Homo sapiens: one gene and its partner. The protein of the gene in region 2 interacts with the protein of the main gene of each other region in a biochemical or structural test. Each region holds a gene or a part of one and is shown on either strand. Other genes may lie near its edges. The genes, in order: TRIM72 and VSIG4.

What was found.
Region 1: the proteins of VSIG4 (region 2) and TRIM72 form a complex in vitro, tested with the Homo sapiens proteins (one study listed by BioGRID).

Annotation. Positions count from the first base shown.
Region 1 is NC_000016.10:31,217,110-31,224,235, reverse strand, and holds part of TRIM72 (tripartite motif-containing protein 72), read right to left. Parts: exon of another isoform or gene 7,101-7,126; intron 5,142-7,100; coding exon 5,046-5,141; intron 4,948-5,045; coding exon 4,717-4,947; intron 3,341-4,716; coding exon 3,318-3,340; intron 1,410-3,317; coding exon 1,291-1,409; intron 56-1,290; coding exon 1-55. UniProt on the Homo sapiens protein: Muscle-specific E3 ubiquitin-protein ligase that plays a central role in cell membrane repair by nucleating the assembly of the repair machinery at injury sites.
Region 2 is NC_000023.11:66,022,370-66,030,550, forward strand, and holds part of VSIG4 (V-set and immunoglobulin domain-containing protein 4 isoform 1 precursor), read right to left. Parts: intron 5,744-8,181; coding exon 5,681-5,743; intron 5,158-5,680; coding exon 5,080-5,157; intron 2,761-5,079; coding exon 2,656-2,760; intron 494-2,655; coding exon 472-493; coding exon of another isoform or gene 468-471; exon of another isoform or gene 132-467; coding exon 1-131. UniProt on the Homo sapiens protein: Phagocytic receptor, strong negative regulator of T-cell proliferation and IL2 production. Potent inhibitor of the alternative complement pathway convertases.

The DNA of each region.
Region 1 (7,126 bases), on a different chromosome or scaffold from region 2:
GACACCACCAGGCTCGGGTGCGCAGAGCTCGGGTCAAAGGTCAGCTCCTCCAGCGCTGCCAGAGAGAACACGGTCAGAAAACCCTAGGTTTCTGCCTCGCTGGGGTCTTCTCCCAACCAATTGCAGGCCAGCTTTCTCTCCCCTAATCCTCTTGGCATCTCTGCTCACTGGGCTTGGGCCACAAGATCACACCTGGCTCAACTTCAGTTTGCCCAGCTGTGAGATGAGGCCATGATTGCTTCCCTCCAGGGTTGCAGGCAGGCCTGCATTTTCTTTTTGTTTTTGTTGTTGTTATTGTTGTTGTTTTTTGTTTTTGTTTTTTGTTTTTTTGAGGCGGGGTCTCACTCTGTCGCCCAGGCTGGAGCGCAGGTGCAACCTAGGCTCACTGCAACTTCCAACTCCCAGGCTCAAGCAATCCTCCCATCTCCCATCTCCCAAGTAGCTGGGACTACAGCCACGTGCCACCACACCTGGCTAATTTTTTTAAGTTTTTGTAGAGACAGGTGTTCTCACTATGTTGCCCAGGCTGGTCTCCAACTCCTGGGCTCAAGTGATCCTCCCACCTCGGCCTCCCAAAGTTCTGGGATTACAAGCGTGAGCCACCGAGCCTGGCCAACAGGACTAAATTGATACAAGGCATGGGACTCACCATCTGAGGCCCAGACAAGGCCCAAGGCCCAAGGTCAAGGAGCCTGATCTTCACATCAGCCTAGACCCAGTCTCTGAGCCTTAGTTTTATCTTGAATAAAATGAGGCTGTCTGCATTCCCACCTGCGCTGAGGCAGGAAGGGCTGCCCCAGCAATGTGTATGTCCCAGAGCTCTGTAACCTGCATCATCCAGCTCTTGGGGGGAGGAACTGAGCCCTTGGGCCTCCCCAGCCACAGGCCGCCAGAGTCACTCTCTGACCCAGGCCAGTCCCCAGGGTTCCAGGAGCTCTGCAGAGCCTCAGTCCCCAATTGGCAGGATTTATCATCTCCACCGTCCAGAGAGGGGCAGAGACTGACCAAGGATCACACAGCAAGTCAGTGGCTCAGACCTAGGCCCCAGCGTCCCGTGCCACCAACAGCAGCAGCATTTTCATGTCAGTCACCCACTGCAAACCCCATGCTCTCAAAGGCCCTCCTCCCAACACAGGTTAGAGGACTGCAGCGGCAGTCCAGAGGCAAAGGGGCAATGGGTACCTCCTTCAGTGGCCTCCCCAGTTGGGACTGGGAGGCCTCTCCAGGGTGGCTAGGGCCTCCCATCAACTGCCTGGTCACACACAAACCTGAGCCAGTCCCTCCCGGTACCTGGCATCAGAGCCCGGAACATCTTCCTCCACACCTGGAATTTGAAGTCATCTGAGATAATTGGCAGCTGGATGTCCAGACGGGCGGGTGGGGGAGACTCTGCCAGGATCTTCTGCAGCCTGGGGGTGGGGAGGGGAAGGGGAGGCATGTGTGAGGGGGGAGGACAAGGGCTGGGGGGATTCCAGGATCTCCCCACATCGCACCCCTGCTTAAAACTCTTCCTTTGGAGTTTTGGTTTGGGAAGATGAGAAAATTCTGGAGATAAACACTGGTGATGGTTGTACAATGTGAATGTACTTAGCACCACTGAATTTAAATGCACACTTAAAAATGCTTAAAATGAGCGAGGTAGAGTGTAGTCCCAGCTGCTCAGGGAGGCTGACTCAGGAGGCTCACTGGAGCTCAGAAATTTGAGTCCAGTCTGGGCAACATAGCAAGATCCTGTCTAAAAAAAAAAAAAAAAGAAGAAGAAGAAGCTGAAAATTGTCAATTTTATGTTACATGTATTATTTTACCACTGTTTATTTGGTTTTGGTCTTTTTTTTTTTTTTTTGAGATTGAGTCTGGCTCTATCACCCAGGCTGGGGTGTAGTGGCATGATCTTGGCTCACTGCAGCCTCTGCCTCCCCAGTTCAAGCAATTCTCCTGCCTCAGCCAACCAAGTAGCTGGGATTATAGGCGCCTACCACCATGCCTGGCTAATTTTTGTGTTTTTAGTAGAGGTGAGGTTTTGCCATGTTGGCCAGGCTAGTCTCGAACTGCTGACCTCAGGTGATCTGCCCGCCTCAGCCTCCCAAAGTGCTTGGATGACAGGCGTGAGCCACTGCACCCGGCCCAACTACATTTTCTTTTAATCCTTCTGTTGGGATAAGGTCCAAGCCTCTCAGCTTCGCCAGTGTGCACACACCTACTACCGCAGCTTCCTCTTCCCTCCCACTCGCCAGCCCTCTCGCTGGCTGTCCCCTCTCCCAGCAATGCCATTCTCCCAGCAACACCCTTCTCCCAGCAATGCCCTTCTCCCAGCAACACCCTTCTGCCAGCAACACCCTTCTCCCAGCAACGCCCTTTTCCCTGCAATGCCCTTCTCCCCACAATGCCCTTCTCTCTGCAATGCCCTTCTTCTCCCAGCAATACCCTTCTCCCCGCAATGCCCTTCTCCCAGCAATGCCCTTCTCCCAGCAATGCCCTTCTCCCCACAGTGCGCTTCTTCTCCCAGCAATGCCTTTCTCCCCGCAATGCCCTTCTCCCCACAATGCCCTTCTTCTCCCAGCAATGCCCTTCTCCTAGCAATGCCCTTCTTCTCCCAGCAATGCCCTTCTCCCAGCAATGCCCTTCTCCCAATGCCCTTCTCCCCAGCAATGCCCTTCTCCCCGCAGTGCCCTTCTCCCCACAATGCCCTTCTCCCCACAATGCCCTTCTCCCTGCAATGCCCTTCTCCCCATAATGCCCTTCTCCCAGCAATGCCCTTCTTCTCCCAGCAATGTCCTTCTTCTCCCAGAAATGCCCTTCTCCCAGCAATGCCCTTCTCCCAGCAGTGCCCTTCTCCCCGCAATGCCCTTCTCCCCATAATGCCCTTCTCCCAGCAATGCCCTTCTTTTCCCAGCAATGTTCTTCTCCCAGCAATACCCTTCTTCTCTCAGCAATGCCCTTCTCCCCGCAATGCCTTTCTCCTCACAATGCCCTTCTTCTCCCAACGCTTTGCCTAGCCAGCTCCTGTTCATCCCTCCAGGCCCCAACTCAAACATTCACTCCATCCCTGGCCACCTCTTTCCCTCAACGGCCACACTGAGCACACAGTGACGCCTGTGTCCCCACCCACATGTGTCTCACGGCACCAATCTAGGAGGTCCCTGAGTGAAAGGATCCTTCCAGATCATTTCTGTCTACAACCTTGTGTTCAGGCAGGGGTGGGGCAGCAGACTGAATTGCGGGTGTGCAGGCACAATAGTGAGTGGAGAGTGAGCCGGCTGGTGTCCCTAGAAGACTGGGACAAGTCGGGCAAAGGGACAGGGCCAGGTTGCTCTCACCTGCTGGTCACCAGGCAGTATTTCTGGAGAGAGAGAAAAAGAGAATGGTGGTGAAGCCGATGGTGGGGACACTGGAAACTTTTGAGGATGGGGTAGACAACTAGGAATGCTGAGTGCAACGTCAGAAAGAATCAGAAAAGCTAAAAGAGGCCAGACGAGGTGGCTCATGCCTGTAATCTCAACACTTTGGGAGGCCAAGGTGTGTGGATTGCTTGAGGCCAGGAGTTCGAGACCAGCCTGGCCAACATGGTGAAACCCCATCTCTACTAAAAATACAAAAAAAATAGCTGGGCATGGTGGCAGGCACCTGTAATCCCAGCTACTTGGGAGGCTGAGCCACGAAAATCACTTGAACCCGGGAGAAGGAGGTTTCAGTGAGCCGAAGTCATGCCACTGCACTCCAGCCTGGGCAACAGAGCAAAGCCCTGTCTCAAAAAAAAAAAAAAAAAAAAAAAAAAAAAACGCAAAAGAGACCTAGAACTCAAGGCCACCCCTACCCCTTCACTTTTATGTGGATTACAAAAAGGTATCTTTGCCTCCAAGAAACTCTGATTCCACCTGTTAGAAAACTGTCCTAATAGGCCGGGTGCGGTGACTCATGCCTGTAATCCCAGCACTTTGGGAGGCCAAGGCAGGCAGATTGTTTGAGCCCAGGCATTTGAGACCAGTCTGGGCAACATAATGAGACCCCCATCTCTACTAAAAATACAAAAACTAGCCAGGTAAGCGCCTGTAGTCCCAGCTATGGGAGGCTGAGATTGGAGGATTGCTTGAGCCTACAAGGCTGCAGTGAGCTATGATCATGCCACTGCACTCCAGCCTGGGTGACAGAGTGAGACCCTGCCTTTAAAAAAAAGACCAGGCGCGGTGGCTCACGCCTGTAATCCCAGCACTTTGGGAGGCTAAGGCAGGTGGATCACAAGGTCAGGAGATCAAGACCATCCTGGCTAACACGGTGAAACCCTGTCTCTACTGAAAAATAGAAAAAATTAGCCAGGCGTGGTGGCGGGTGCCTGTAGTCCCAGCTACTCGGGAGGCTGAGGCAGGAGAATAGCATGAACCCAGGAGGCGGAGCTTGCAGTGAGCCAAGATCCTGCCACTGCACTCCAGCCTGGGTGACAGAGTAAGACTCCATCTCAAAAAATAAAAAATAAAAATAAGAGTGTCCTAATAAATATATAAACCTACAATGTCTATGATATGAATAGTGCTCACTTAATACAATGTCCTTATGCAGTGCTCAACCTAAACAACCATATAGCAGTCCTGAGGCCTGCCCCTCCCGGCTGTGTGCTGCTGGCTTATCCCTGCCCCTCTCTGGGCCTATCTGACAATGGGATGAGGTCTCTGGGCCCTGAGCAGGGGGCTGAGGCAGGGAGGGGGGTCACCCAGTGCTCACCATGAGGAACTCAGTCTGCGGCTTGTCCGCCACCTCCTCCAGGACCTTCTCCATCTGCCGCAGCTGCTCCAGGTAAGAGTTCAGGCTCCCCAGCTCCCGGCGCAAGGCGACCCCTGCCTCACCCCGTACACGCTCTGCCTCGCGGTCCAAGGAGCCCTCCAGTGCAGCCAGGAACACCCGCATCTTGCCCAGCTGCTCCCCCACGGCCCCCCGGAACTGACGCACTGTCTCCTGCAGGGATGGGGCAGTGATTGAAGGGATAAAGACTCTTGGCTGGAGACCCCTAGCCTGGCCCCCAGCCCTCAGACATGGCCCTGTGAAGTCCTCACCTCCACCTCCACCAGCTGATGCTCCAGCACAGCCACACTCTTCTCCTTGCGCATGCATGCCTCCTGCAGCTGCAGTTTCTGCTGTGGCAGCTGTGTCTGGGGGTCGAGGCATGGAGAAGTGATGGGGATGCCACCCACCCAAAACCCACACCTCCCATCCTAAACCTGCCCTCTGTGGCTCAACCTCAATGCCAGCTCCTCCTCCAGCCATCTTCCCATCCCCAAACCCACTTACATGCCTCCCAGCCCCAGCCAGTGCTACTCCTGAGGTCCGAATGCTTCCCCTGCCCCTTGTCTATTTTGGTGCGGTTTTTTATTTATTTATTTTGGTGTTTTGTTTTGAGACAGGGTCTCACACTGTTGCCCTGGCTGGAGCAGTGGCATGATCACAGTTAACTACAGCTTCAACTTCCCAGGCTTAATTGACCCTCTCACTTCAGTCTCCCAAGTAGCTGGAACTATAGGCACACACCACCGTGCCCAGCAAATTTTCTGATTTTTTTTTTTTTGAGTTGGAGTCTCGCTCTGTCACCCAGGATGCAGTGCAGTGGCACAATCTCAGCTCACTGCAACCTCCACCTCCTGGGTTCAAGCGATTCTCCTGCCTCAGCCTCCCAAGTAGCTGGGACTAATTTTGGTGCACCACCACGCCTGGCTAATTTTGGTATTTTTAGTAGAGACAGGGTTTCACCATGTTGGCCAGGCTGGTCTCAAACTTCTGACCTCAGGTGATCCACCCACGTCAGCCTCCCGAAGTGCTGGGATTAGACATGAGCCACCACTCCTGGCCATGATTTTTTAAAATATTTTTGTAGAGACAATCTCACTATATTGCCCAGACTGGTCTCCAACTCCTGGCCTCAAGCAATCCTCCCACCTCAGCCTCCCAGCATGCTGGGATTACAGGCATGAACCGCCACACCCCCAGCCCCTTGTCTGTTTTGTTGACCCCTCCCTGGCCTTGCCTTCCCTGATCCCCTCTGCTCAGCAGTCAGCCCCATAGCACAGGTCTTTGCGAGGATGACAAACATCAGTGTGGTTTGGTCTCTCCCACCAGACAGGCAGGCACAGAGCTTGGCACACAACAGACCTCAGGGGGTACATGAAGGATATATGAAAGAAGAAAGGCAACCTACCCCTACTCCTGGGCTTCCTCTCTTACTTAAAAGCAGAACATCAGCCTCAGTCAGCCTGTCAGCCTGACCACCAAGTCAGCCTGCCTGTACACACATGGGCTTGGAGTAGGGGGCAGGAAATTTAATTAAAATGTCCCCTGCTGGCCGGGCGTGGTGGCTCACACCTGTAATCCCAGCACTTTGGGAGGCCAGGGCGGGTGGATCACGAGGTCAGGAGTTCAAGGCCAGCCAGACCAAGATAGTGAAACCCCATTTCTACTAAAAATACAAAAATTACCTGGGCGCTGTGGCAAGTGCCTGTAATCCCAGCTACTCGGGAGGCTGAGGCAGGAGAATCACTTGAACCAGGGAGGCGGAGGTTGCAGTGAGCCAAGAATGTGCCACTGCACTCTAGCCTGGGCGACAGAGCAAGACTGCATTTCAAAAAAAAAAAAAAAAATGTCCCCTGCACAGACCAACCATTCTGTGGTCTAGATCTTACCCAAGACCTCAAATGCAAATATGCAAATATAGGAGAGCTCCCAATACTCCTGCCAAAGCCATTTTTTTTTTTTTTTTTTTTTTTTTTGGAGACAGGATTGCCTAGGCTGGAGTGCAGTGGCAGAATCACAACTCGAACTCCTAGGCTCAAGCAATCCTTTTGCTTCAGCCTCCCGAGTAGCTGGCACTACAAGCATGAGCAACCATGCCAGGCTACAAAGCCACTTCTTTGCTGGGAGGTGCCTGACCATGGAATCAGTTCCATTCCTGCCTCAATGACTTGCAACCTGTTTCCTCCTCTGCAGATTGGGAACAGCAATCCCCACCTCAACAATTTGGCGCCCCCACTCTCCCAGGGGAAACTGGGGGACCCTCTAGGCGGTGTTTGCAGAGTCCCCTCCCAGCAGGAGCCACAGGGTTGAATAGGAGCTGCCAGATCAGTCTCCTTCCCGGGACATCCCCGGG
Region 2 (8,181 bases):
GTCCTATGCAGGGCTCATCAGAGTAGTTGTTGCCCAGATTCTGGGAAGTTGGCTCATCACTGGAGCAGCCACTTGCGAAGATGGCCACCCTCATGGTTTCTCCAGAGTCGTTGGCCTCTCTGGCATGTGCCCTATGGCCCAAGAGCCCACCACCCATAAGAAGGGACTTGGGGCTGTGGTCCTGGTTTCCCACCCTTCTGCCTCAATTCTTGCCAATTAATTATCAGGATCCTACCACCCAGGGATTCTGGAAGCAGAAGGCAGATGGATCTAAATTATCCTTTGTGTTCAGAGGGCCAAAACAACCTCAGAAGGTGCCTGAGAGAGGGAAGGCAGCTATGTCCTGACCCTGAAGGCCTCCGGCCTTAGGATTGGGTCTGTGCCACACCCCCCTTCCTCCACATTTCCTGCCAGTAATCAAAATTGAGGGCAGGGACGGGGTCAAAAATGGAAGAGGAGAGACTTTCTTACCTGGCTGCTTCGTAGACATGCTCTAGAAAAAAAGGAGGAATCATGTCAGAAGTTTTCATGGCAAGTGGACAAAGGTCAATCATGGATCCTGGGTACCAGTCAAAAGATGAGGGAAGGGTACAGAGGAGGGGATTTTAATATGTCTTAGCTTTCCAACAACTGGGAGGTATTGGGGAGGTGAATTGAAACACAGAGATGCAAATTTATCAGGTAAAAGAAGGGGAAGCACATTTGGTCACTATCCTTTTTGTCATCTTGGACTCAGGATATTGGGCTGGAGCAGTTTCTCGGTATGGGTTGGGGGAGGGCACTAGAACTGGACTTGCTCTTTACCCAGGAATCTCCCCCAAGGATCCCCAGAGAGTCCTTGTGGGAAACTTGACTGTCAGGCCACATACCAGGAAGAAGGGACTGGATTAGCCTGATGCTGATGGCCGTGACCCAAGACATTCCCAAATGCACTCACCCCCACTATATACCCAGGAAAAACCATGGTATTGGTTACCATTGCCCCCTAGTGTCTGTGGAGGAGGAGTGTCCTATATTCCGTACAGGCTCAAAGGCTTAGGTTGGTGCAAAGACAGATATTTCTTTGTACTGCCCTCTAGGTGCTTATAATTTTTCAGGGATGCAACTGGAAATGCAAGCATTAAATGACAACAAAGTAAACAAGGGAAGCCACAGGACTTCTGCCTTATGGTAGAGCCCTGCATTTCTGTGTCTTACTCGCCCATTGGCCTATGAGCACCTGTACCGCAAGGGTCGTGTCTTTTTCATCTTAATATGCTCAGCACCTGTCACACAATAGGTGCTCAGTAATTATGTTAAATTAAATTGATGCTCTGAGGCTGTCTCCCTTATACAGAGATAGGAAAGAGGAATTTTTGGAAATGAGACTAGGTATAAGGAAGTGGTGGGTTGAGAAAATTGGCTAGACCCACATCACAGAGAGCCTTGAATAGAATGCTACATTTTGACCTTTATCCCCTGGGCCATAAGAAGCCATGGAAGGTTTTTGAGAGAGAAACAATTTAATGTGGTTACCGCTTATGCCCAGCCTCATCAAGGCTATATGCAAATGCTTTCATTTTAGTGCCCCTGGGGTTTGTAGTCATGTGCTATCAAGTTCAGCCTCATGGTGATAAACATGCTAACTGGCAAAAGCCAGAGCTTATAATTGAAACCTGGGAGAAGGAGATACTCAAGGCTCCCTTCTGGTGATGGAAATCCATCAGATCCATGGTAGTAACCAGGCTATTTGGGAGTAAGAGATACTACAGAGAATAAGACAAATTGATGCTAGGCAACATGACTAGTGCACTGGGCATTGAGAGACAGCTAGTATTTTTTTCTTTTAGAAACAAGCATCCCAATTTTTTTCCTCCTCGGTTGGTTCATAGTTTTTAAATGGCTCTGACAACTGTGCTGTCATTATGCCACTTCCATGCTTGAAAAATTTGGTAAATTTAGTGCCCTTGCAAGGCCTAGTGAAGAAAGTCCAAATTATTTAACCTGGCATTTAAGGCCTTCTATAATCAGGAATAAGCTTTCATTTCCCACTGTACTTCCCTGTTGCCCATCTACAGAAATTTTCTTTATTGATGACCCCACTCTCAGTTGTCTTTTAGGCCCTAACAACTATGCTGATGTAGTTCTCTCTTCCTGAAATACTGTCTCCTTACAACTTGTTTTCATCCTCCAAAATGTGGTCTAAGATATTCTTCCTTCTGAAATCCCTTGCTAATTACCCAAGCCTTAAATTACTCTCTTCTCCTCTGGATCCCTTTAGCATTAATTGTCTTCTCTAGTTTTTGAGCTCATAGCCTCTATTGCTATGTATTGTCATTGATAAATTCCATGTTTCTACCTTGAATCTCCTAAATAAATTGTGAGCAACTTGAGGCCAGGGATTGTGACTTCTCCTTCTCTTGCATCATTACAAGATGACTCGTTAGAAAGATGGCTGTACTTCACTGAGTACCAAAGCCTAGTGCATTTAGTTCTGTAAGTCTTATGCCATTGTTTGCTCGAACATCTGCCTCCCTGCACCCCAACCTTAACTCCCAAACTAGGCTGGGAGCTTCTTGAAGTGCCTAACACAATGCCTGATACAGAATTTAGGCTCAAGTATACTGACAGAAAGAACAAATGAGCCAAAGCCACCTTCTCATATTCATCACTAACCTTGTTGGGATGTCTTCCGACAGAGCATGATATAGGCCATGGTAAAAACCACCATACAGCACAAGGAGATGATGAGGATGATGGCAAAGACAGGCAGGCTCTTTCCTAGAGGGTAAAACAAGATCAAGTGGTATTTGATTGAAAATAAGGCCAGAAACAAAAACTCTAAGAAACAGCCTAGACTAAGCCAGGCCTTTTTCTTTTTCATTTTCCATATTCTCCTAACCTTCTTAGCTAGCCAGAGAGAAAAAACTCCAGTCCCATGAGAAAGACTTGAGAAAGAGATGCCATGTGTAAACAGGTTCTTCCAGACTCACTGGTGGGCTGATTGGCCTGGGCATTTGAGCTAGTTGTCTATGCTTTCTATAGGGCCAAGACAGAAGGTTTTCACCTTCCCTTAGAAAAAAGAAAATAATATCCTGACTTTCCAGCTTCACCAAAAATGCTACATACCTTATTAAGATTCTGGTCAGTTACTTCTAGCCACAAAGATTCTTCCCATCACACGCTCTGGTCAAGTCCCCAGCTTCCTTCTTTCTCAAAACATATTTCCACTGAGCCACTTGAGACACATATTCCCATTATGCCTAAAAGCTGAAAGAATCAACTGGACTTGGCTTCCAGTCCTAGATCTGTTATTTACTTTCTGTATGACTATGGTAGGCAGAATAATGGTCCTCTAAAGATATTCACATCCAAATTCCTGGAACCTGTCAGTATGTTAGTTTACATAGTAAAAAGGAACAGAGATTTGAGAATGCTACATTGTTAGTTTTGAAAATGGAGGAAGGGGGCCATGAGCCAAAGAACGTGGGTAGCTTCTAGAAGCCAGAAAAGAAAGACAAGGAAATTAATTCTTCTCCAAACCCTCCAAAGGGAACATAGCCTTGCTGACTGACATTTTGATTTTAGCTCAGTGATAATTGTGTCAGACTTATTTCCAGAAGTGGAAGATAATATATTTATGCTGTTTTAAGATACTAGGTTTGGGGTAAGTTTTTACAGCAGCCATGGAAAAATGAATACAGTGACCTTAGACAAAACTTTGACTGTCACTAGGCCTTAGTTACCCCATAAGTTCAATGAAAAGATTGGATGATGTCTAAAGCACTTTTAGCTATAATATTCTGAATCTAAGATGCTAGGTCAGGGGGGATAGAGAGGCGTGAGGAAAGGAACCTCAGTGTACTTAGGATTTGTTGCTGCAACTGGCTTGTTTTCATGAGACTCTAAGATATCGTGTCCTAGGAATCCAGTATTTGTGGTCCTCAGAGTGTCTTGTTGGGACTGAGAGAGCTCAAGTTATAAGCTGGTACAAATCGAAGAAATATTCTCTTTTGAAGAGAGTCAAGTACTAAAAAACTTGGTAGAGAAAATAGGGCGCAGACCCAACATCTAATAACTTTGCCCAAGGTTATTTTCTCATTTTTCCAAACCAACTCCCTATGAGGCAATTTCTAACTTCTCTTCTCCCAGTAGATGTTCTTCTCGGAGAGGAACGGAGCTATGGAAATCTTGAAGCCAAAGATGGCAATGCAAATGTGGAACATAAAACAGGTTTGAGTGCTGCCAAGGGATAGCCAAAAAACTCTGCAATCAGGAATGGAGAGTTACAAAGAGCATTTGGAAGTCCACTCTCTCAATTATACACAGGCAGAGAATGAGTACCAGGAGTGATAGTTATCAAACTATTTAATTCCAACCAGTCACAACAGATGCCTACTGTAGACTTGGAGTCTTAGAGATTCCTTGGTATACCTTTTGTTGCATGACCATGGGGGTGGTCTAGAGAGTTCTGAGGAATGGGACAAGGCAGCCCCAGGTAATAATGGAGGGCTCAGGGGTTAAGGGGAGCAGCTAATTATCAATTGGTGTGAGAGTGTTCTATTATTTCAACAGTCAATGTAGTCATGTGAAGGCATACCAACTGACTATCAGATGCAGGTGAAACACAAAAGATTTATTTGGGATTTGAATCTCTGAGACCCTGACTTGGGAATTTTCAAGGCTTTGGAGGAATCAGAAATCAGCTTCAAGCGGCTTGAAGAGCCCTGGTTAAGAGCTCAAGCAATGACACTCAGCCATTATCCTTACCTGGTTGAGGTCATGATGTCATAATGTCCCTATCCATATTCTTGCTCAGAATGTTTGGAAAGCATATTACTATGACAACAGAGAACTAAATAAAGGGCACATTTATCACTCCCCTTAACCTCACTCTGACTTTGCTCATCTCTGGATCTGTATCTCTCTCTCTACATCCTACCCACTTTACCCATCCTCAGTGCCCTTGACCATTGCTTGGCACATAGCAGGTAATGATTTGCAGATTTCAATGCTGTAGAACAGTGTGCATAAGGGAAAGTTTTGGTCACAAAGCTTAGAGTCAAGAAGAAAAGATAGAAATCCTGACAATATTCCTACCTGGCCCAGCACTGGTCTCTCCAAGGTAGCCATCCATGTCAGTGGTCCAGTCCCAGGACTGCTTCACTGTAGATGTTGCTATGAATATAGAGAATAGGGTCAGAGATGTCTCTCTTCTTTCAAAAAGTTGAGAGATAGGAGATGGTTGCAAAGGTTGGAGTCCTTCCCTGGCCATTTGTGCTGTACTTTCCAGGGTACCTGACCATGTTATCAACCACTAGTACCATGAGATAAGGCATCTTCATTTCTTACTGTTAGGTGTGGGCAGTGAGAAGAATTCCCATCGAGGGGAGGTAATGTACCCAAAGTCACACAGCAAGTCAAACTAGGAGCAGAATAGAATTTAGTGTTCTTGTTTTTTGTATTTCCAATGGGAGTAATTCTAACCCTCTCTTTCCTTTTGCCTCAGAAGTTTTCACAAAAAAAGAGTATATATTCATCATTGTTACCTTTCTTTTGTTTCCATTCCTTTACTGCTATGTTCTCTCTGAGGAACCAAGTGACTGTTTATTAGCCATTCCATGGCATTGTGATTCCTTTCTTGGCTACGATGACACCATTTTGAACCTCTACTACTTCCTCAGACTCTAGCAAAACTCACCTTTCAAGGGGTATGTCATGGTTGTAGGTGCCTCAGTCTTGGTCTTGAGTAGCTTTGAGGAGTCTGCAAGGAAAAGGGAACCGATTGAAGGGACCTGGTACCCTTTGGTGAATAGTTTAATGCCCTAGGGAAATAGGAAGTAAGTAAAGGCCATTCAGGTCCATACTTGGACCTGCCTCAACACTTCTGTCATGATGCTGGTAAGTCCTGTGTTGCTTGTTCATCTTTCATACATCAATCAAGGACAGAGTTTTTAACCCAGGATTAATAGATCTCGAAGGAACCTGTAGCTAGAGTTCAGAGAGTCAGTCAACTTGGATGGGAAAATATATTTTATTTTTACTAACTTCTAACTGAGACCTAGTAATTAATTCTCTTGAGAGAAACTTGGGAAGTATCATAAAGAAAGTGGCAATGGGTGACATCAGTGAAAATGGTGACATAATAACCTCCAGAAATTTACCCTTTAACAACATCAGTGAAATAATGCAAAATTTGACGTAATCAACTTTTTTTTTTTTTTTTTTTTTTTTTTAGAATTTTGCAAAATAGCCAAAGGTTTGCAGCACCTTAGACAGGATTTATGGAAGAAAAATATCCCAGTTTTGGTAAGAACAGCAAGCTTTGTGCTGTTTTAACTTCTCCTAGTCCCCTTACCCCTTCTACCTCAGAGGTAATCTTGAACATACAACCCCATTCCAGGTGCTGGAGTGAGCCCAACAAACTTCATTTTTGAATAATTGCCATTATTTGGCCTGTCTGGTGGTTCCCTGAAAGACCTGACTCAAAAGACTTGTTTTATTGGTCACCCAGTGCTAAGAGCCTCTCCCCAGGGATGGGGTAGCATTTGTCACACAGCTGCCTGAGGCAATGGATAATAGGCGAGAAAACAAAAAAAACTAACCAAAATAGCCTTAAAAATGGTTGAGGAATAAGATTTCCATAGGGATTTTGAAGAGTTCTGACACAGTTCTGGGAAACTAGGAGGCCACACACAAGCACAGGGCCATGTACCTGCTCAGAAAAGACATGAGAAAACCATAAGCTTCTCCCTCTTGCTAGCAGAGGAAACAGCATGCTCCGTTTTAGATGTGGCGAAACATATTAGTAGATAAGTCTGGATAGGTAGGCTGAAAACAGACTAAAAGGGTTTGGGCTTTGTTCTTTAGTTGGAAAGATCCATGGGGTGTAACAGAAGGTTACACCTTTTGAGAAAGGTTTACTTCCTTTTGAGAAAGGAAGCAAAAATTGTTCAGTCTATTTTTTTTGGAAATAATTCTGACAACAGTGTGGTAGGATTTTCAAAGGTAAGGCAATAGCATATTTTCCCCATTCATTAACAAATACAGTATTCATCTAGTGTCTAGTGTCTTCTTTGTGCCAGATACTTTGCTGGGCTCTGAAAAACAGCAATGAAGTAGACAGGTAGAATTCTGCACTCTTGAATTTTATAATCTAGTGACATAAAATATATACTCAATAAATATTGAATAAGTTGATGACTTCGTAAGAATGTATGAACATGGGGAGAACATTTAGAAGATGATTGAAATTGTTTTTTAAAAAAGAATATGAGACCATGAGGGTATAGGAAGAGAAAGAAAGAGCCTAATAAGGTATCTGATTCAGTAGGTGAATTCACAGCACTTGGTAATATTGATGATTATTTGACGATGCGAGGTAAAAGAGAAGGAGGAGTCAAAGGTACTGCTATGTTTTCTAACAGGTTTGAGGAACAGGTTTGGTGAGTAAAAGGTACGATCAGTTTTGAACACGCTGAAATTAGAAATGAAGCTGTCCAGAAGGTAACTAGACACTGGGATCTAGCAGTCAGGAAAAAATAAATACAGATAATATTATGGTTGGAGAGTCATCAGACTACAGGTGATATTTGAAGCCACAGAAGTAAATAAAATCTCCTGATAATATAGAAATACATGCAGAGATGAATAAGAATTGAGTCTTTGAGAACATTTACAATTAAGGAGTGAATGAAAAAAGAGCCAACAAAGGTGTCTCAGAAGGATCATTCAGGAAGGTCTTAGAAGAACCAAGATAAGTTGGTGTCATCAATAGCAGTGATTAAAAGAATATTGAGGTGGAAGAAATGGCCAACAGGATCCACTGCTACACAGATGTTGAGGAGGAAAAGTATGAATGGAGAGGTCTTGGGATTTGGTGATATGGAGGTTAATGATGACCCCAAATTACAAAGTTATGTTGTGGTGAATGAATTGAGAGGTTCAGCTGGTGGAAGCTACCTTCGTGAGAAGGTTGGTAGTGAACATAGGAGAGATGAGGTGGCAGATGGAGAGAAAGATTTTTGAAAAATAACATATATATATGTATGTATTAGGCTTGCATACTGACATATATACATATATTATACATGCATATCTATTTGGCTTAGGTAGAGGATAAAGGGTATTGCAGGGCATTGGAGTAGCTGATGTTAAGAGTTCAGGAGGAGGGGCTTGTTGTGGAGAGGAGCAAAGCATACC